Linked DNA regions of Homo sapiens: all the other regions are linked to region 3. The links come from fine-mapping of genetic effects on gene expression. A gene starts in region 3. Each other region holds a variant in brackets. All regions are shown on one strand. Distances are from middle to middle. Region 1 holds the start of LOC124903609 (small nucleolar RNA U13). Region 2 has its middle 9.9 kb from the start of OR4F6. Region 3 holds the start of TM2D3 (TM2 domain containing 3). Region 4 overlaps TARS3 (threonyl-tRNA synthetase 3).

What was found.
Region 1: its variant is fine-mapped to the expression of TM2D3 in unexposed skin (GTEx, PIP 0.96).
Region 2: its variant is fine-mapped to the expression of TM2D3 in whole blood (INTERVAL, PIP 0.94).
Region 4: its variant is fine-mapped to the expression of TM2D3 in cerebellum (GTEx, PIP above 0.99). The same link has a PIP of 0.9 or more in pancreas and prefrontal cortex.

The regions. Positions count from the first base shown.
Region 1 is chr15:101,682,651-101,687,803 of GRCh38, forward strand. TARS3 (threonyl-tRNA synthetase 3) reads right to left here. Exons shown (of 19, transcript NM_152334.3): 11 at 3,246-3,412; 12 at 1,425-1,587. LOC124903609 (small nucleolar RNA U13) reads left to right here and starts at 865; the gene lies at 865-966. The variant A/G (reference allele first, on the strand shown) is at 2,563.
Region 2 is chr15:101,790,989-101,796,141 of GRCh38, forward strand. No RefSeq gene overlaps it. Among named protein-coding and RNA genes, the nearest start is that of OR4F6, 9.9 kb to the right of the region's middle. The variant T/C (reference allele first, on the strand shown) is at 2,203.
Region 3 is chr15:101,650,176-101,655,328 of GRCh38, forward strand. It overlaps TM2D3 (TM2 domain containing 3), which reads right to left and starts at 2,206. Exons shown (of 6, transcript NM_078474.3): 1 at 2,096-2,206; 2 at 1,521-1,598. The coding sequence starts at 2,186. TARS3 (threonyl-tRNA synthetase 3) reads right to left here. Exons shown (of 19, transcript NM_152334.3): 19 at 3,421-4,555. The coding sequence ends at 4,407. RefSeq lists silencers at 1,794-2,353, 2,594-2,783 and enhancers at 2,444-2,503, 2,610-3,500.
Region 4 is chr15:101,688,845-101,693,997 of GRCh38, forward strand. All of the region lies in intron 10 of TARS3 (threonyl-tRNA synthetase 3), which reads right to left. Among named protein-coding and RNA genes, the nearest start is that of TARS3, 33 kb to the right of the region's middle. The variant A/G (reference allele first, on the strand shown) is at 2,958.

The DNA.
Region 1 (5,153 bases), 32 kb after region 3:
TTCATGAGGTGGTGAAGATTTCCTCCTCTTCAATTTTCTGGAAGAGTATCTCTAGATTGGTATTATTCCTTCTTTAATGTTTGGTAGAATTCACCAGTAAAACCATCTTGGCCTGGAGTTTTCTGTGTAGGAAGGTTTTTAACTATCAATTCAATTTCTGTAGTAGACACAGGGCTATTCAGATGATCTACTTCTTCTTGAGTAAAGTTTAATAGTTTTGTCTTTCAAAGATTTATCCATTTCATCTAAGCTGTCAAATGTATGAGCATAAAGTTATTCATAAAACTGCCTTATCTTTTTAACAGCTACAGAATCTGTAGTGATGACATCTGTCTCATTCCTGACATTTTTATTTGTCTTTTTTCCCTCATCAGTCTGACTAAAGGTTTATCAATTTTATTGATCTTCTCAGAGAACCAGCTTTTGTTTTATTTTTACTCTTTATTTTCTATTTCAGTGATTTCTGCTCTGCTCTTTCTTATTTTCTTTCTTTTGCTTCCATTACATTGGGTGTAATTTGTTCTTCTTTTTCTATCTTAAGTAAAAGCTAAGTCATTGATTTTTCTTTTCTAATGCAGGTATTCAGTGCTATAAACATCCCTCTACCACTTAAATCGCATCCTACAAATTTTGATGTGTTTTTATTTCATTTGTTATATAAAATTGTCTAATTTTCCTTTGGATTTTGTGTTATCTATTTTTAATTCTATTGTGGTCAGTTAGGATTAGGGTTAAACATTAGGGTTAATTAAACATTTTATTTTAATTGCATCCCTTTCAACTCACTGAGACTTGTTTTATGGTCCAGAATATGGTCTATTTTAGTAAATATTCTACGTGCAATTTCAAAGAACAAATACTCTGAGCTTTTTGTAGTTCATAAGCGTGATGACTGGGTGTACACACATGTGTAAGATGTACCTCCCTCACACCTCGGTACAACATTGGCATATTACCCACCCCACATGAAGCACATTGGATACAACACTGGCACATTACCCATCCAACATGAAACCAAAGAATGTATATTCTGCTGTTGTTATATAAACATCAATTAGGTCAAATTGTTTGACAGTGAAACTTTGCATGGCAATTTTAACTTGAATTAACACAAAAACTTGAAAAAGTAAATTTTAAGTTCTAGGCGATACTGAAAAACAAAACATCCAGAATTCCACCAAATCCCTTAAAATACTCCACTTAATGGAATTTAGGTTAATAAAATCACTGAAGGAATATATTTCATGTCAAGAGATGATTAATCTATTGACCTAATTTAGAGAATCACAGCAGGTTAGAGCTGAATGAATCTCAGAGACTAGACCAAACGTCTATGTTTCAGTAACTCTGAAAGAATACAAGATGTGTGCGGGGCATCACACTCAATTTGTGACCACACTGCTTCACTCTGTGTTATTGTTTACCTGCTCCACTGTGCAAAAAATGTGAGCATCGTCCTGCTGGAAGCGCCTCACTCTGGTCAAGCCGCTGAGAGTCCCCGACAGTTCATTTCTATGCAGAACTCCAAAATCAGCAAATCTAATAGGCATTTCCCTCCAAGATCGTGGACGATGGGCAAACATTAGACTAGAAAAGATGTGGTAACACACAGCTTTTACACAGCACAGAAATATTAAATAATTATCTAAATATAAAGAAATTACAATTAAGCCTCAAGATTCATAAACTCCTTATTCTAGTTCTTAGATCACCAGGTTAAAAAAAAAATTCTTCCACAAATTAGTGAACCTTGCATTTACATCACTGCAGCACTCTGAGAAAGATGCTTGTCTATTATCTCTTCCCAGAAATGCTGTTCCCTCCCCTTATCCACACAGTGAATCACCATTTACTGTTTATGATTCATTTCAAAGGCTACTTCTTAAATGAAGCCCTCCTAGACATTTCCCAGACAGGGCTAGGCAGTTTCTCCTCACGTTCCTGGAACACCTCAAACATGCCATCATTATGGCACTGGTCTTTTTATAACAGATTGTCTACATGCATGGCCCTGCCCACTCTGCTCATGAGTTCCATGAGGGAATGGTTTGTGTCTTAATCACCTCTGCACTTCTAGCTCCAAGCACAAAAAGCACTCAACTATGTTCTCTGTTGAATGAAAGACTTCTCTCCTGCAGAAAGCACTCCTAGCTTCCATATCCCATTGCCTCTAAGCCACCGTGGTCTTGCTTTCTTATTCTGAGGTGTAAAAAGACAAACTTAAATTCTCTACTTTCATTATAAAGTACGAGGCTATAATTTTAAAGGATGCCTTTGAGAAGATGAGTTAAGAAATTGTTAACACAAGTGTTTTACAATGCAAAACACTAGCATAGCTTCTACCTTCTGTTTAGAAAGAGAGGATACAGAATGTTTACATACCGGTGTTCCTAAAATTAAAGTTATATATATTTTTTACATGACATCATCATAAAGTTAAATTTCTTCTCATCTTCACTTAAAAGGGCAAAGAGCTTTCTTCAGTGTTCAGTTACCGGTTTTAATAATTATCTTCTAGGTAAATTTACTTGAAACTATGTATGTTGATAATACAAAAACTAC[A/G]ATTGTTGGGATTGTTTTTTGTGGACAATTATGCCTATTCAGTTTCAGTTGTACAATATGTTTGTCTTACAAGGTTGAATTTGCATACCAACTTTATGATAATTAGTCTTTCATAGAATCAAAGACAGCATTGATTGTAAAATGTATCTTCATTTTATGTGCTACAAAGAAAGAAAATAACCTATTAATTAAATTATGATATAATGCTAAGATGCCACCAACTATAAGATGCATTTCAACTTCAGAAATGTTGAAATGTGGAAGAAAAATGGTATCTTGGAATCAGTGAAATCCAGAAACCCATTGATTATGACCTCATTGATCTTGTTATAATCCACCCAAACAGTATGAAAGAACTAAATATTCTGCAAATATGAACATGTGAAGTGCATTACTATAAGAAAGACAAATATTATAAAACTTATAAAATTGACACATAACATTATCCTTTAATCAGCACAAAAAAATGCAATGGTTACCAGCTAACATCCCATACCTGCCAAAGATCAAATATATTTTCAAAAGTAAATCCATTCTCCGGAATGAAACAACTTAGTAAAAATTAGTAATCACCACTCTTCAGATTAAAGGGACTCTTTCATTCCACAAAGCATTAAAAGATAATTGTGACGAAGCGTGCTATGTGCTCTCATGAAAAGGTCTGCTTCGCTTTTAATACTCACCAGTGCCCTGGACAATTCATGGGTTTGAGGGCAAAAGTGTCCTTTTCAATCTCAAAGGTAAACATGTTCTCGCTGTAATGCTGCCAGTGGCCTGAGGCTTCCCAGAGTTTACTGTTGTACATATTGGGAGAGAGCACCTCCGTGAAGTCCCGTTTGTGATATTCCTCCTTCAAGATACATGCATTCAACATTAAAATCTGCTAGGGCAGATCACAATTCCATGCAAAGTAACACTATGAGCAAATATTTTCAAATTGGGCTCATGTCCTATATTAATTCATGATTAATGTACCCTCAGTTTTAGGTGTGGTGGTTTCTGGATCTTGGAAGAAAGATTTACATATGCTTAGTATAATTTCTATTGAGTATATTTATTTTATAGCATATAACAGTATATAGTATATAATGTTTTAGTTCTTTGAAAAGTAGTAATTGAAATACAATATATATAGAAACTCACTGTAACTACTCCAAAGTCCTTCTAAACAGGTTTTTTCCTATTAAGAGGCAGAAAAAATTTATAATTTAATAAGCCTGAATGCCATGTTGCATGTTATAATTTTGATTTATTTAGTTTTAAACAGAAATAAGAATTTTAGTGTATAACGATTTAAGTAGTTGAAATTATTAAGTCATGAGCTGGCCTCTCTCCCTCCCTACCTATTAACAGCTTCCCTAATTGAATTACTGGAGACAGGAGAAGAGAGTTTTTTTCCAAGCAAAGTTTTAACTTTATTTAAACTTTCTTTAAAAACAAAACAATTAGGTGATCTTTGTTGGGTAAATATTTTATGTGCACTTTCCAAAAATGCATATTCTGCTGTTGTTTTACAAATGTCAATTAGGTCAAATTGTTTTGACAGTAATTTGATAGGGACCCTTTGCATGACAGTTTTAATTTGGATGAACACAAAAAGCTGAATAAGTAAGAATTCTGAGAATCCTTAGATTCTCAACATTTGTAAACCACTTAATGGACATCTGGCCCAAATCTAGAATGCCATGTATACTTTGAGCACATTTGAAAAACTGTTTTCACAGCTAAAAAAACATAAAACATAACATTTTAAGATTACTAACAATGGTTTTATACAACTGAAAGGAATGTTGTCTGTTATTCTTCAGCAGGGCATCCTGGCAGTCCACGGTAGACAGCTTAGGTCTCGGCCATTCAGTGAGCTGCTTTACCTATCCTTTGTTTTTACTAAATTAGAAAACCTTAACAGGTAGGGTGTGGTGGCTCACGCCTGTAATCCCAGCACTTTGGGAGGCCAAGGTAAGTGCATCACCTGAGGTCAGGAGTTTGAGACCAGCCTGGCTAACATGATGAAACCCCATCTCCACTAAAAATACAAAAATTAGCCAGGCGTGGTGGCACACACCTGTAATCCCAGCTACTCAGGAGGCTGAAGCAGGAGAATCGCTTGAACCCAGGAGGCAGAGGTTGCAGTGAGCCAAGGTCACGCCATTGCACTCCAGCCTGGGCAACAAAGCTAGACTCCATCTCAAAAAAAGAAAGAAAATGTTTAACAAAATGATGTCATTAAGAATGGCAGTGATTATTGGCTATTTCAGATGGTTCCATATATTCAGATTAAACAAGGTCCCAGAAATTAAGGGTGAGTGTGTGGGTGTGTGTGTGGCAGGGTGTGCGTGTTCGCTTTTACTAAAAACTACTTTTAAAGTCTAGCTCAGGAGATACTGCTCAATGCATTTTTAATTCACTCTGAATGCAACCATGTTAGGAATGTATGTCTTCTTGAGATGTTTAGAAATGATTTTAAACTATCCCTGCAATGGACTGAATGTGTCTCCCCCAAAATTGTGATATTGATACCTTAACCCCAAGGTGATGGTATTAGGAAGTAGGGCCTCTGACAAGTGATTAGGTCATAAGGGTAGAGCCCT
Region 2 (5,153 bases), 140 kb after region 3:
ACAGCCTACACTGCTGTAACCGGTGTTGCCCAGTAAACTATCTGGCATGCAAAATGCTAAGTATTCAAAGTACCTGGCATTCATGATCATTGTGATAGCAAACTGTTGACATTTGGTTTATTTCCCAAAGCCGGACCATTCGTACTTCTCTTAAATATTTTGGCTTTAGAGCTTTGTTGTTGATACAGATAATGTATCTCCTTGTTGCCCTGTTTCCCTTCTTGCTGCCCTGCATTTAGCTGCAATTTGCTTTAATGGAGTCATCCCCATGATCATGGAGAAATTGTTCAGTATTTTGATGTTTAGCTTTCATCTCATTTTGGATCGTTTATCTTGATAATTAACATTATTGCATGAAGACCCAGTTGAGAAAAAATATTCTGTAGGAAATTCATTCTTTAATAGTTAATATAAGCCTTCACATGCTGAGTGTCAAAACCTGCAATTCCTCTTGATCCTTAAAAGGCTTGTAAATAAAGACAGTTCAGTTGAAGAAACTATACTGTTAAAGTCAAATATTTTTGGAAATCAGCTTTGAGTCTTGGGGATTTAGAAATTTACGTAAATGATCTGACTCTCAGCAAGCTCTAAATAAACAATAACTATTTGATGGGGTAATTGAAAGAGAGCCTCCCATCAAGTGATCACTATCTGCAAAAGTGATAATTCACTAAAAACTTATGCCTCACTTTGTAATAACAATATCACAGTGGGAATTTTTAATCAATAAACTGGAATATAATCAGATTGGGGAATATGTAAATCTATATCAGTCCAGTGAAACCTACCAGCAGGGAGAGAAAAGATAAAAATGTAAAAATCAGATTGAATTTTGGGGGAAAGCTTAAAAGAAATGCAGTTATGCCTCGGCTGCCATACTCAGCATGGGACATAAAGAGCCCCACCACAGGGCTTGAATTTACAGGAGTCTGTCCAGCACAGCTTTATCCGACACTGAAGCTTCCTAACAAACAGAAAGAAATCTTACACTCTTGCTTGTTAGTATTTAATACATGCATTATGTGCTTTTTAATTTTTTGGTCCTACTAAGGAGTAGCTGATAGCGCTGTTTTGAAGGCATATCTACTGTGCCTCTGACTAGCAATAGGAAACCGGTTAAGTTATTCAACCTCTCTACATTTCAGTTTCAGGAAATGAAGTGGACAAAGAAGATCATCATTAGGCAATATGTACCTCCAATATTCTGTATTATGTGGAGATATCAAGTCCGTATGTGATTACACAAATCATAGTCCAAAAGAGTTCAGAATGAGACATATAGAATTGAAAGTCCTATTTATACAGATACTGGTTAAAGCCCAGGGATTAGATGGGTTTAAAATGCTTTACCGGCCGGGCGCGGTGGCTCACGCCTGTAATCCCAGCACTTTGGGAGGCCGAGGCGGGCGGATCACGAGGTCAGGAGATCGAGACCATCCCGGCTAAAACGGTGAAACCCCGTCTCTACTAAAAATACAAAAAATTAGCCGGGCGTAGTGGCGGGCGCCTGTAGTCCCAGCTACTTGGGAGGCTGAGGCAGGAGAATGGCGTGAACCCGGGAGGCGGAGCTTGCAGTGAGCCGAGATCGCGCCACTGCACTCCAGCCTGGGCGAAAGAGCAAGACTCCGTCTCAAAAAAAAAAAAAAAAAAAAAAAAAATGCTTTACCTCTATATAGAAAGGAGTACAGGACCAGGAAAGGGCCCAGGGGCATACCATGATTGAGCCGAGGAGACAGTAAGAGAGTTTCAGTGACAAAGGAGATGCAAGGAGACGATGGGGTTTCTGAAACCAGGAGAAGAAAGCCTTCATCATAGAAGCAAGTGATAAACTTCACTGAACACTTCTAAGACATTTCGGACAAGAATAGAAGAGCGACCTTTGGATTTCACTGCACGTAGCTTAACAAACGTTCATAAAGGCAGTGAAAACGGAAGCTCGGTTAGGGTGGTCTTAGGAGAGAATCCAGGTGATGACGTAGAGAATGCGACTATAGATGGCTCTCTCTAGAAGTTTTACTTTTAAGGGTAGCAGAGAACTAGAGTAGAGCTGCAGACATAGTTCCCCCTCCTCCCTCTCCTCCATCTCCAGTTTCTTCTTCTTTCCATGAGTGTAACAGAATGAAATTTAGGGCATAATCCTGTAGAAGGTAAGAAATTAACGATGCAGGAAAGAGATTGGATAATTGTCCAAAATAAATAAGT[T/C]CTCAGATGATGCAAGGCAGTGGGCTCTAGCACACAAAGGGGCTGACATCTGATAGGAATTTAGTTGTTTTATCCACATAACAGTTATTTTTTCAGAGAAAAATCGAATTGTGAAAATATAGCTGAAAACCAAACATTACCCCTATGTGTGTGGTAACTTGTGATGTAAAATGCATTTCTCAATAAAGGTCCTGGTCATAAATTTTAAAAGTAAAATACCTTGAGGGAGCTACAGTTAGAGGACAGCAGGATGAAGGATAATCATCAGAAAGAATACAAAGTGGGCCAGGCATGGTGGTTCATGCCTGTAAACCCAGAGCTTTAGGAGGTGTTGTTGGGAGGATCACCTGAGATCAGGAGTTTGAGACCAGCCTGGGCAACCCAGACCCCCATCTCTACAAAAATAATAATTAAAAAAAGACTACAGAGTAGAAAAAGCAGAGTGAAACAGAATCTTCAATACAAACAGTAGGGGGATTTTAGCAAAGAGTAGCTGACTTAGATGGTGCTAAGATTTGTATGGAGTTCAGTGCTGAGAAGTCTTTTTAACAAGTGATTTAAATGGGAATATTGCCTTGTTTACATAGCTCAAATAAAATGCAGTATAATGTGCAGAAAACAAAAAAAAACAGTAAAAAGCTTAAATAATCTTTATTCTTAGGACAATGTTTTTCAAATAAGGATTATGGCTCACTATTTGGTCATAACATAAAATACATTTCTTATTGTGGATGGCTCCAAGAAAAAGAAAACCCAAGTTTAAGAAGGCTCACCAATAGAGAGTTTACCTATGTCATATAAGAAGTCCCAGTTATACATCCACTAGTAATAGCTCCATGGCCAGGTACATGCTAGTATTTGCATTTTGGAACGGTTTTTCTCTCCCGTTTGTTGTCTCTTGGTCACAAGATGACAGATTATCCCAGGCCTCACGTTTACATTCGAAGACTAAAAACCACTGTGGTGAGTAGGAAATGCCCCTCCCCAGAGATGACTCCCAAGCCCTCATTCCCAGACCTGTGACTGTGTTGCCTTACATTGCAGATGTACTCCGCAGATGTGATTAAATTCAGGAGCTCGACATGAAGGGATTAACCTGTCTTATCTGGGTGAGTTCAATGGAATCATAAGAGTCGAGTGAGCCAGGAGATTCAGATAGGGAGGGGTGACCATGGAAGCAGAATAATGTGGAGTGAGAAAGACTATTCATGGGCTTATGAAGTTAACTGAGCAGAATGTAGGGTTTTCAGGATATTGGCAATGAGAAAATGATAGCGGTGAGTGAAATCATCTGGATGTTCCAGGGGAGAACCTGAATAGTTTTCTTTGCAGTTGGTCAGCTGTTCATTTTACTCAGAAACTGAGACATTATGCTACCTTTTTGCACATCCCTCCCCTGCCTTTCTTGTTCAACAGATGGCCGCCTGTACTAATGCTTTCAGGAATGTGAGGTTACTGGACACGAAAGCCATCAGCTCCTCCAAACTCATATATATATATATATATATGCTATCTATCTATCTATCTATCTATCTATCTATCTATCTATCTATCATCTATAGCTCACTGAAACCTTTGCCTCCCTTTTCAAGCAACTCTCCTGCTTCAGCTTCCTGGGTAACTGAGATTACAGGTGTGCACCATCACGCCCAGCTATTTTTTGTATTTTTTTGTAGAGACATCATGTTGGCCAGGCTGGTCTCAAACTCCTGACCTCAAGTGATCCTCCCACCTTGGCTTCCCAAAGTACTGGGATTACAGGCATGAGCCACCTTGCCTGGCCTCCATTATATTTTTAATCCTTCCCACCCCCACAAATCCTCTTGCACTTTGTCAGTCATTTGTCTCTCCTGAGTCTTTAATGTCTCTCGTTCTAATGATGCTTTCCCCTTAGATCAAGTCATACTCAACATTCTCTGTCTGTCTCCCTTTCTAAATCTACTGTGCTTAACCCTTAAATGCAAAGTGTTCCCAGATTTTCATCTTATCTAAACTCTCTCTTCACACTTTAATTAGGTGATCTTTTCTCTCACCTACAACTCTCAAATCTGTATCTCCAGCTCTGACAATACCCATGAATCCCAGGTATGTATACCTGACTGCCTGCTGGATAGTCACCTGAAGTTAAAAAAAAAGAATATTTATAATTGAAATTATTCCCACTCTTCTTTCATCCCACCCAAAACATGTGCATTTTCTTTGTTCCTTCTCTCTAGGACCATCTCCACTCTGCAGCCGACAACTGAAGCCAGACATTAGGGCACCATGGTTAACTCTCATTAGCTGGAAACATTATTGTTATTTGTTTAGCATAACTTAAATATGATGTATTTTATATATTTAAAAATATAATTTGTGACCCCACATAGGGTCCTGAAGTTGATGCAGATGCTTGAGGTATTGTATTGCATATGTTTATTTTCAGCTGACTTAGTCACTGGAGGCAGATGTGTGAAGGAAGTCTCCTTCAGTGACTCATCAGAGAAACTCAAAATGAGTTGCCAGGAATAAAACAGCATAATTTTAAAGGAATTCTCTGCTTAGACATTGTGCATCTGTCAAACTCAGACTGGATAAATTAATTACGCTCTGATAGGATAGCCCCAGAGAGCCAGCCTTTCAAGATCTATTCTTCTCTATAATCAATATAGTAATTTAACATTTGAACCTGCCTCCAAGCAAAAGGGCATACAACCAACTGTGAAAAGTCTTTGTATTCTACTCAGAATTCTTTGTTGGTAATGGGAAATTATTTTTAGTTAAAAAATCAAAAATTAAAAAGAAAAATTATTATTATGGCTACTATTCTTTTCAAGTTGAACATAAAAGTTGAGATCAGCCTGTAAACTTCTACGTTCAGGCAAAGAACACAAAAATTGATGAAGATAAAAAATGTGGTTGGTTTATTGGGAATAATAGTCATTTTTAATTAAAGAAAATAAAATATTAAA
Region 3 (5,153 bases):
AGAGAAGCTTATTCTCCTATAATACTGATTCGAATAACAGAGAACAATCTTCTAAGGTTAAGAGACGTGATCATTAGCAAGTAGACACTGCACTGGAAGGGAAGAAGCATGGGACTGGAGTCAGAGACACCTGCAATTAAAGCAGAATTCTGCCCACGGCCAGCTGTGGGACCTGGTGAGCACCACACTTGTAAAACATTACTTCATTCCTGCCTCCCACGTGGCCGTGAAAACTAAAGGTGCTCATATACAAATAATGTATAGAAAATTCTGGGTATACATTAAGGGCTTAAAAAAAAGACTATCATTTTGTAAGTTGAAAAAAAACTTACAGTAGGGTTTTGCAAAATCACAGAGGAAGTCTGTGGCAAAACTGGAACTAGAACCCAAATCTCTCCATTTCCAATCCCGTGTTCTTTTCATCTGAATTCACTAATTCAGAAATGAAGCCACTGACATCCTCAGGGCATCAACTTTAAAATGTCATTATTTCACACTGGTACTTCGATAAGCCACATTTGCTAATATAATATTTACAGTTTTACGCTACCAAAGTTCAAAACAGTTCTCTACTTTAATAACATCTTCAGTAAGCTGCAACTTATTTCCAACCAACCTAATGAGTGTGCAATGTATTTTTACCAACTGAAAGGATCAAAATTGCAAGTATTCCTGAAAAGAAGGGCTTTCAAAAGCCTGCAAGAGTTAAGAACTCTTGTGCTTTCTCTAAAAAGTAATCTGAGTTTAAAATTCAAGTGCACTGCTGTTTTTTACATCCAAATAAGAATCAGTAAAATATCTCTGCCAGTTTCAATTCACTGAAGTAATGTCACTTTAAAGTGATGAAATTATAGTCAGAGCCTCCACCTAGCAAAACACACTAATGCTTGTTTAAAACTGGTCCTACTTTACTCACTGTATTAAGGAACAATTCTACAAAATACTCTTTTTGATCCCGTGACTATGTGGCTGGAAGGTGGACACTTAGAATCACAAAGCAGAAATGACTTTAGGTCGTCAGACCAACCCCACCGCTTTAAAGATGAGGACCAAGGTCCAAAGAGGATAAATAATTTGTTCAAGATCCCAGTAGCAAAACCAGATCTAGATTTCAAGTCTCCATCAGTCCCGCTGTAATCCTTCCATTTCCACAGTCCTGAGGGAGCCTTTAATATTCCAACATCAGGAACAGGGTTTTAGCAGTAGAGGAAATTTGCTGAAGGGAAAGAAGCACGGACTGAAGGTTATTTTGATGGATGAAGTGGAAAAATAATAGAAATAAGGTGACAAATGAGCGTGGGATTGGAAAAAGAGAGGAGGCAGAAACGTCAAAAGGTATAAATACGAAGACTATCTACTGAAAATGGCTGTGTATCTACCCTTAATTCACATAATCTAAAATACAATAAATATTCAAAAATGGAAAGTGACTTCGTATACTAAAGGGAATTTTTATAAAAACAAAGAGAAACTACTAGAGATAACTACATGTATTTACTAGAATAGAAAACGTCTAGTACCTGCTGCCCTGGGAACTACTGTGAATGTGCGTGTTGGGCCCGGATCCTTTATTGACTGAGCCAGCGCCTGCGATTGCTCTAAATTTAAGGATCGTACAATTAGAGAAACACGTTATCCCGGGACAAGAAAACCTTATTTTGTGTGGTTAACACGGCGGGTCTACACCAGGCCAATAAGCTGCTCATGAAAACCTCACGGCTGGTCAGCCAGAAAACACAAAGCTTAGGGACGAAACGTCAACAGAGTAGACATCAGTTCAGGTCAGCCGGCAACGAGGGACCGAAGGATGACATCGCGCTCCAGTTCCGCCTCCCCGGCCCAGCCCCCAAGCGCTCCATCTCCGTGCCAGGGCTCCGCAGCCGCGATGGCGGGCTCGGTGTCGCCGGAGCGGAGGGGCGGCCTCGGGCCGGGCGGCCAGGGCGCCAGACTCCAGATGCAGCGACAAGCGGCCCGGAGCCCGGCACTCGGCCTCCTCCCCGCGTCAGCGTCCGCCCGTGGGCCCGGCCTCCTCGCAGCTCCCGGGGCCCTGCTGCCACTCAGCCCCACCCGGCGCTGAACCCAGCCTTTGACTCACCACCGCCCGACAGAATGCAGAACTGCGAGAGGAAGAGCAGCACGCGACACAAGGCGCGGAGGCCCCTCAGCGGGAGCACCCCTCCCGCCATCTTGCCAGCGCCTGCGCACTTCCGGGCCGGGGGGCGGGGCGCGCCTGGGAGCCGGAGCGTGAACTGGACGCAGGCGCGCTGCGACTCCTGGCGGCCGGCGTTTGCGCTTTCGCTGTCCTCGCGCGGGTCGCGGGTTTTCTTCCGGTTGAGCCTTCTGGGAGGTCCCCGAGGAGGATGCGAGCCTGGGAGGTTGTTCCATTTCCACGCGCCCCTCACGCCCTTGGACGAGGCCCTCACCCCTGGTTCCACTGCAGGAGACCTGTTAAAGGTCATCCGTGGACCGAAATGCGCGCCCGAAGCAACCAAGAGCAGAGGCGGGCGAACGCGGGAGGCTGGCCGCCCCAGTGTGTGGTCGGATGTTGTGTGCTGGATCTCGTGCGAAGGTTCCGAGGACACTATCGCGTGGCGTTTCATCCTAAAGACACTTATTTACAGTCGGGGAAGCGGCCCCGGGACGACGAGGGCCCGAGGGACCCCTCCCCTGGGGCCGGCGCTCAGGCCTGCCGCGGCTTTCACTTCTGGCCGGCCTCTTGAAGATACGCAGCACTTCCAGAAAGTTCCTCTCAGGCCTGGAGAAGCAGGATGGCCCGAGGCGCTGGGAAGTGAGGGGAGGGTCCAGAGCCCAGCCCTGCCTGGGGAAGGTCGCGGCCGTCTGGGGAGCCGCGCTCAGGCCCCAGCTTGCGGAGACCCTTGCCGGTTTCTGTCACAGCACACCTGGGAGAAAGCGCTGGTGACAGGTGCTCTCCTCCCACCCACGTGCTTCGGGATCGTTCATTCCGCGGTCTTCTGACTACCACCCCCTCACGTGCATGTTTGCTGAATGACTTTTTAAAAAATACATGGAAAAGTGCCGGCACATAAGCCCTGAATGTTAGCTTTAAAAATCGTATCACGGCCGGGGGCGGTGAATCACGTCTGTAATCCCAGCACTTTGGGAGGCCCAGGCGGGCGGATCACGAGGTTAGGAAATCGAAACCATCCTGGCTAACAACACGGTGAAACCCTGTCTCTACTAAAAATACAAAAAAATTAGCCAGGCGTGGAGGCACGCGCCTGTGGTCCCAGCTACTGGGGAAGCTGAGGCAGGAGAATCGCCTAAACCCGGGAAGCGGAGGTTGTAGTGAGCCGAGATCGCGCCACTGCACTCCAGCCTGGGTGACAGAGCGAGACTCCGTCTCAAAAAATAAATAATAAAAATCATATCACACAATCTGCACCTTATACTACTACACAAGCCTGATATATATTGTTTTGTTTGCCAACTGTTTCACTGTTCACATCCCTCAGGAAGTTAACTAAATGATCAGTATATTGAAAAGAGATTATTTCTTACATTTCTTTTGAATTTCACAGCATATCGCAAAATAAACAATACTTCTTGTTTGGTAGCTGAATTCTCTATTGACATAATGCCATTTTAATTCAGTTCTGAGCACGTAGAGCATTCCTCTCTTTAAAATCTGAAATCCATTTCAGTACATAAATCCATGGAATGTCATCCCATCAAAAAAGTAACAACTCTAGGTGAGCGGCTTAGTGGTGGTAGAAGCCCACAGCTGAAACGCTGGAAACACTGATGCAATTCATTTGGGAATTTATTTTTTTCTAAAGCGGAACAAAACCTAATTATGAATAAGAAACATTTAAATGGCAACTCTTAACCTATAGTGCAAACACCAGATTCCACAAAACTGAATTCCTTTGTCAGTAATCCAATATTTAGCAGTAGCTGCTGCTTTTGTGGTTGTTGGTTAGTTAAAATTAAGTAATGATTCCAGTTTAGAAGATAAAGTTTCAGTGTGAATTTTAGTAGAAGTCATAAAAATACCTGAGACATATTAGAAAATAAGATTTTCCCTCCTATTTAAAAAAAACTCTGCAGACTTTTATTTGAAGCCCATCTTTTGAAAATCACTAACATTTCATAATCATTTCCTAGTGTTTTGTTTCACTTTCTCGATGAATAATATTTCCCCATTTAAGTTTCTCAAGGCATTGATTGCTGGAAAATTTCCCACGTGCCCTCTAAACGTCCCCCGTGGACATGAGTAAATTAAACTTCGTGCATGTCAGCTACACGTTCATCGTCTCCTTTCTCAGCTGAGGCCATGAGTGGACCCATCAGTGGCTCCAAAGTCGTAGAAGTACTAACATGTTAAGAAAAATACATTTTTAAGGGTCAAAACAAAGTTACACAGAAGCAAATATCAGGGAAGGACTTCAAAAGGCCTCCTCAGCATTGAGTGTCCGTGTCTTCCTGAGATTCTTCAGTTTATCAATGGCAGAAGTTACTAAAATCTCTCCATGAATTTTGTTGTCTCTTGTTCGCACGTTTACAGCATTATCTATCTTTTCCTTTTCTCCAACCACTGCAGAAAAGAAAGGTAAAGAAATGTATTTTAAATCAGCAATTTACCAAACATTAAGTCAGCAGTCCCATGACATGTTTTTATCAAGTTTTTCTTCACTAATATTAAATATCATCTAATGAGCATTTGGTTCATCCTCTGATAGTTAAGTTTCTTGAGGGAAGCAATGACTTCTGATCCCATCTCTCTATTGTCCACCTGAGAGAACAGCTCTTGTGGTCCTGGGGTGCAGATGAGAGGGGGGAGCTCTTACAGACTCACACTGACTGCACCTGGCACTAGGGCGCAAATGAGAGCGGGGAGCTCTTACAGGCTCACAGTGACCCCACCTGGCACTAGGGCGCAAATGAGAGCGGGGAGCTCTTACAGGCTCACACTGACCCCACCTGGCACTAGGGTGCAAATGAGAGCGGGGAGCTCTTACAGGCTCACACTGACTCCACCTGGCACTAGGGCGCAAATGAGAGCGGGGAGCTCTTACAGGCTCACACTGACCCCACCTGGCACTAGGGTGCAAATGAGAGGGGGGAGCTCTTACAGGCTCACAGTGACTCCACCTGGCACTAGGGCGCAGATGAGAGGGGGGAGCTCTTACAGG
Region 4 (5,153 bases), 39 kb after region 3:
TAGGCTTCGCATTACTAAGGCATTGTTCCTGTCTTCTGTTTTTCAGTGTTTCCACTGAAAATTTCAATGCCATTCAGATACCCAGTCCTATGTCTGTGGCTTTTTTCTCTCTGGAAACATTCAGGATATTTTCTTTATCCTTGGAGCTTTGGAATCTTTCGATAACATGTTTTGGTGCCCAAAGTATGTTTTCACCAAAAACTGAGACATGCTTGGGAGTTGAGATTGTCCATTGCCCATTATGGGCTCCCTTTACTATAGAACTGATAGACAGAAAAGGACTTACTACCCTTGATCCCAATTACTTGGGGAAAGACTTACTACCCTTGATCGCAATTACTGGGAGAAGTCGTATTGCTTACAATGGAGTAAGGAGGACTGTGTCTGGAATTCAGTGGGGAGCCTTTGATATCAACACATCTAGCAACAACCATCAGTGGGAGCCCTGAAACCCCACAAAGAGCATTACTAAAACCTTGGATCCTAAGGACAGACTGAGGCCATCCACTATTATTGGTTTAACTGTATTCTCCAAATAAGATATTTTGAAGTCCTAACTCCTAGTACTTCAGAATGTGTCCTTATTTGGAAGTAGGGTCTTTATAGAGGTAATCAAATTAAAATGAGATCATTAGGGTAGATCCTAATACTATATGGCTGGTCTCTTTATAAAAAGGAGAAATCTGGACACAGAGACAGATGCACACAAGGGGAAGACAATGTGAAGACACGCAGGGAGAACATCACGTGAAGACAGAGGATGGGAATGACGCTTCAACAAGCCAAGGAACACTAAAGATGACTGGCAACCAACAGTAGCTAGGAGAAGGCAAGGAAGGATTCCCCCATGGGTTTTAGAGGGAACACAGCCTCGTCAACACCTTGATTTCACACTTCTGGCCTCCAAAACTGGGAGATAATAAATTTCTGTTGTTTTAAGTCACCTAGTTTATGGTATTTTGTTATAATACCCTAGGAAACTAATGCACCCACCAAATAAAACAATGCCCATCTGGGGTGCCACCAGGATAAGGCGAATGTGGAATGAGTGATGGGAAAAGAAGGCTCTGATGTATCAGCTTGGCCCTAGCGTCCATCTACAGAGGCTGAAACAGTTACATTTAGTTATGACTTTTCCTTGCATTCTTACATGAAGGGCACTCATGGTGGCCAATGGCACGATTCAGATTTAGGTGAAACTGAAATGACATCACCACATGATGACACATCGGCTGATCGGAGTTTGTGGGAGGAAACCAATGTCCTCAGTGTCCTCCAAGCAAAAGGCAAGAATGTGCTGAGAGGCACAGGGGGTGAGCCAGGCTGGTTATTTTCCATTTGCCACTGCCTGTCTCGCCTCATCTTGGCCCATTTTCCTTCCTTCTCTGCCCTGCACTGTGTTCCCCAAAGCTGACTTCTGTGGGCTCCGCACAAGGCTTACTTGCTGTGATTATTATTTTTTTATTTTATAAAATATATACTTTTAAACACAATAGTATAATACAACATGCTTAAATTATGTTTCATGTGGAAAAAAATAAGGTGTATAAAGAAAACCTGAACATTTTCTCTCATTCCACCCTTTACTGCCCTGAGATAATGCTAATGGCCTGCTGTTCCTGTATTTCAACCCTCTCCTCCATGACTGTGCAAACACAAAACACACATACAGGATTTTGTTGTTTTTTGCTTTTACCTATAAAAAGAAAGGATACACTATACATTTACTCTGTCACTTCCAGTTTTCAATGGTGAGGTATACTGAACCCCCTTCAAGTTAGTATGCATAGATGTATTTTTGTACTAACTGCATAGTGCTTTATTGTGTGGACATGTCACAAAGTATTTAATCCTTCTACTATTGAGAAACATTAGACTTTTCATTTTTGAATACTACAAACTATTCTGCAGTAAAGTTTTTTTCTATGTGATTTTAATTGTATATTTTAGATTCCTTTCTAAGAATATTGCTAGGAGTGTGCATTTTTTTCACATTAATATTTGTTACCAGATTAGTAGCAATTTAAACTTTCTCTCTAAGTATATGATAACTGTTTCCTCACATTTCCTTCAGCAATGAAAATTATTTAATGGGTATCAATCTTTTTTTTTGAAATGGAGTCTCGCTCTGTCACACAGGCTGGAGTGAAGTGGCGTGATCTCAGCTCACTGCAAGCTTCGTCTCCTGGGTTCACACCATTCTCCTGCCTCAGCCTCCCGAGTAGCTGGGACTACAGGCGCCCACCACCACGCCTGGCTAATTTTTTTGCATTTTTAGTAGAGATGGGGTTTCACCGTATTAGCCAGGATGGTCTTGATCTCCTGACCTCATGATCCACCCGCCTCAGCCTCCCAAAGTGCTGGGATTACAGGCATGAGCCACTGCGCCCGGCCAATGGGTATCAGTCTTAGAACTATTACCTCAGTATTTATATATATATATATATATTTTTGAAACAGAGTGTTGCTCTCTTGCCCAGGCTGGAGTGCAGTGGCACAATCTTGGCTCACTGCAGCCTCTACCTCCTGGGTTCAAGCAATTCTCCTGCCTCAGCCTCCCAAGTAGCTGAGATCACAAATGTGCACCACTACGCCTGGCTAATTTTTGTATTTTTAGTAGACACAGGGTTTCACCATGTTGGCCAGGCTGGTCTCGAACTCCTGGCTTCAAGCGATCCACCCCTCTCAGCCTCCCAAAGTGCTGGGATTACAAGAGTGAGTCACTATGCCCAGCCTTTTAAATTTTCTTCAATAAATTTTATTTCACATATTTGAGATTCACAACATGATGTTATAGGACACAAATAGTAAAAGAGTTACCTTTTTTGTGTGTGTGACAAGAGCAGTTAAAATCTAATTACTTAACAAAACTCCCTGATAAATATAATTTTGTTAACTTTAGTCCTCATGTTCTGTATTAGATCTCTGGCCTTGTTGATCCTAGATATCTATTTTGT[A/G]TCCTTTGATCTATATCCCCCCATTTCTTCCCCCCAACCCCTGACCATGGTAAGCACTGTTTAATTCTCTGTGTATGTACCTGAGCTCTCTCCTTTTTTTAGATTCATCAGCTCCCCTGGTTCTCAGGCCTCTGCACTCAGGCGAGAATTACATCTCCAACTTTCTTGGACCCTCAGATCATGGGATTTCTTGGCCTCCATAATCACACAAGCCAATTCCTCATAATAAATCTCTTCTTTTCTATGTATCTTGTTGGTTCTGTTTCTGTGGAGAATCCTGACATGCCAATATACTTTCCATATGGTTTCTGATTGGGTCTGACCAATGGGAAGTTCCAAAGGATTCACAGGGTAGTGGAAGAGAGAGGTCTGGATATTTCTTTCCCTGGTTCTCCCTGCTGTGGGTTTACTCAGGTTCTGGCTGTGTTCCACAGTTACAGCTTCTGTTGTGTGGCCTCTCCTCCACGGCTCCAAGCTCTCTGTGGGTTCTGGTATTACTACTCCATCTCCTCACTTCTCTCCTCCACGGCTCCAAGCTCTCTGTGGGTTCTGGTATTACTACTCCATCTCCTCACTTCTCTCCTCCACGGCTCCAAGCTCTCTGTGGGTTCTGGTATTACTACTCCATCTCCTCACTTCTCTCCTCCACGGCTCCAAGCTCTCTGTGGGTTCTGGTATTACTACTCCATCTCCTCACTTCTCTCCTCCACGGCTCCAAGCTCTCTGTGGGTTCTGGTATTACTACTCCATCTCCTCACTTCTCTCCTCCATGGCTCCAAGCTCTCTGTGGGTTCTGGTATTACTACTCCATCTCCTCACTTCTCTCCTCCATGGCTCCAAGCTCTCTGTGGGTTCTAGTATTACTACTCCATCTCCTCACTTCTGCAGGCCTAGTGATGGAGGGGAAGGGATTCTTGCTATTGGTAATCCCTGGGCGCTCTATCATCCCTTGTTAGTTACCTTAGCCAGGCCCATATCTCCATAAATACTTCCTTCACTAGACTCTCTTCAGTTAAACCCTTGGAGTGCATCTTTCAGGACTCTCCCTGCAGAAGAGCTGAATGTTTTGAGGCCTGCCATGTTCACAAAGACAAGCTTGGTCTAGAAATTCACTCCATCTAAGGTTGTGTGAAGAGGAAGCAAAAATTCCCCAAGTGGGTTATTAATATAACAACAAGAGAAGCCACTCCCCTCCCCACTCCAGGGTTTCAAGACATGCATCAACAAGTCAGGCAGATTCCAGGAAATGCAAAAGGTGTGACTGAGATGAGCTTTACAAAAGCAACCCTCATGCACAGCTGGTGGGAATGCAAAACAGTAGTCATTTTGGAAAATAGTTTGGCATTTTCTTATAAACTTAAATTTACCATATCTATTCTCACACTGCTAATAAAGACAAACCCAAGACTGGGTAATTTATGAAGGAAAGAGGTTTAATGGACTCACAGTTCAGCATGGCTGGTGGGGGGGCCTCACAATCACGGTGGAAGGCAAAGGAGAAGCAAAGGCACATCTTAAATGGCAGCAGGCAAGGGACTTTGTGCGGGGGAACTCCCTTTTATAAAATCATCAGATCTCAAGAGACTTATTCACCACCACAAGAACAGTATGGGGGAAACCACCCCCACGATTCAATTATCTCCGCCTGGCCCCACCCCTGACCCTTGGGGATTACTACAATTCAAGGTGAGATTTGGGTGTGGACACAGCCAAACCATATCACCATATGACCCTGAAATCACACTCCTAGGTATTTACTCTAGTAAAATGAAAACCTATGTTCATACAAAAAACTGTACATGAATGACAATAGCAGTTTTCATAACTGCCAAAAGCTGAAAACAACCCAAATGCCCCTCAACTGCAGGATGGATCTGAAGCAGTGGTATGTTCATATGATGGAATACTGCCCAGGGACAAAAGCAGAGGCCCGCTGGGGACACTCAACTCGGATGCATCTCCAGGGTGTTATGCTGGGTGAAAGCGGTCAGTCTCTAAAGGTTTTATAAAAGTATGATTCCATTTATATGCCAATATTTTAGGGGTAGAGAAAAAATCAGCCGTTCCCTGAGGTCAGGGCTGGGGAGGATTTGATTTTAAAAGGGTAGCATGAGGGAGTTTTGAGGGGTGACGGAACTGTTCTGTATCTTGATTGCTGAGGTGATAACACAGTTCTGCATGTTATCAAAAAGGCGT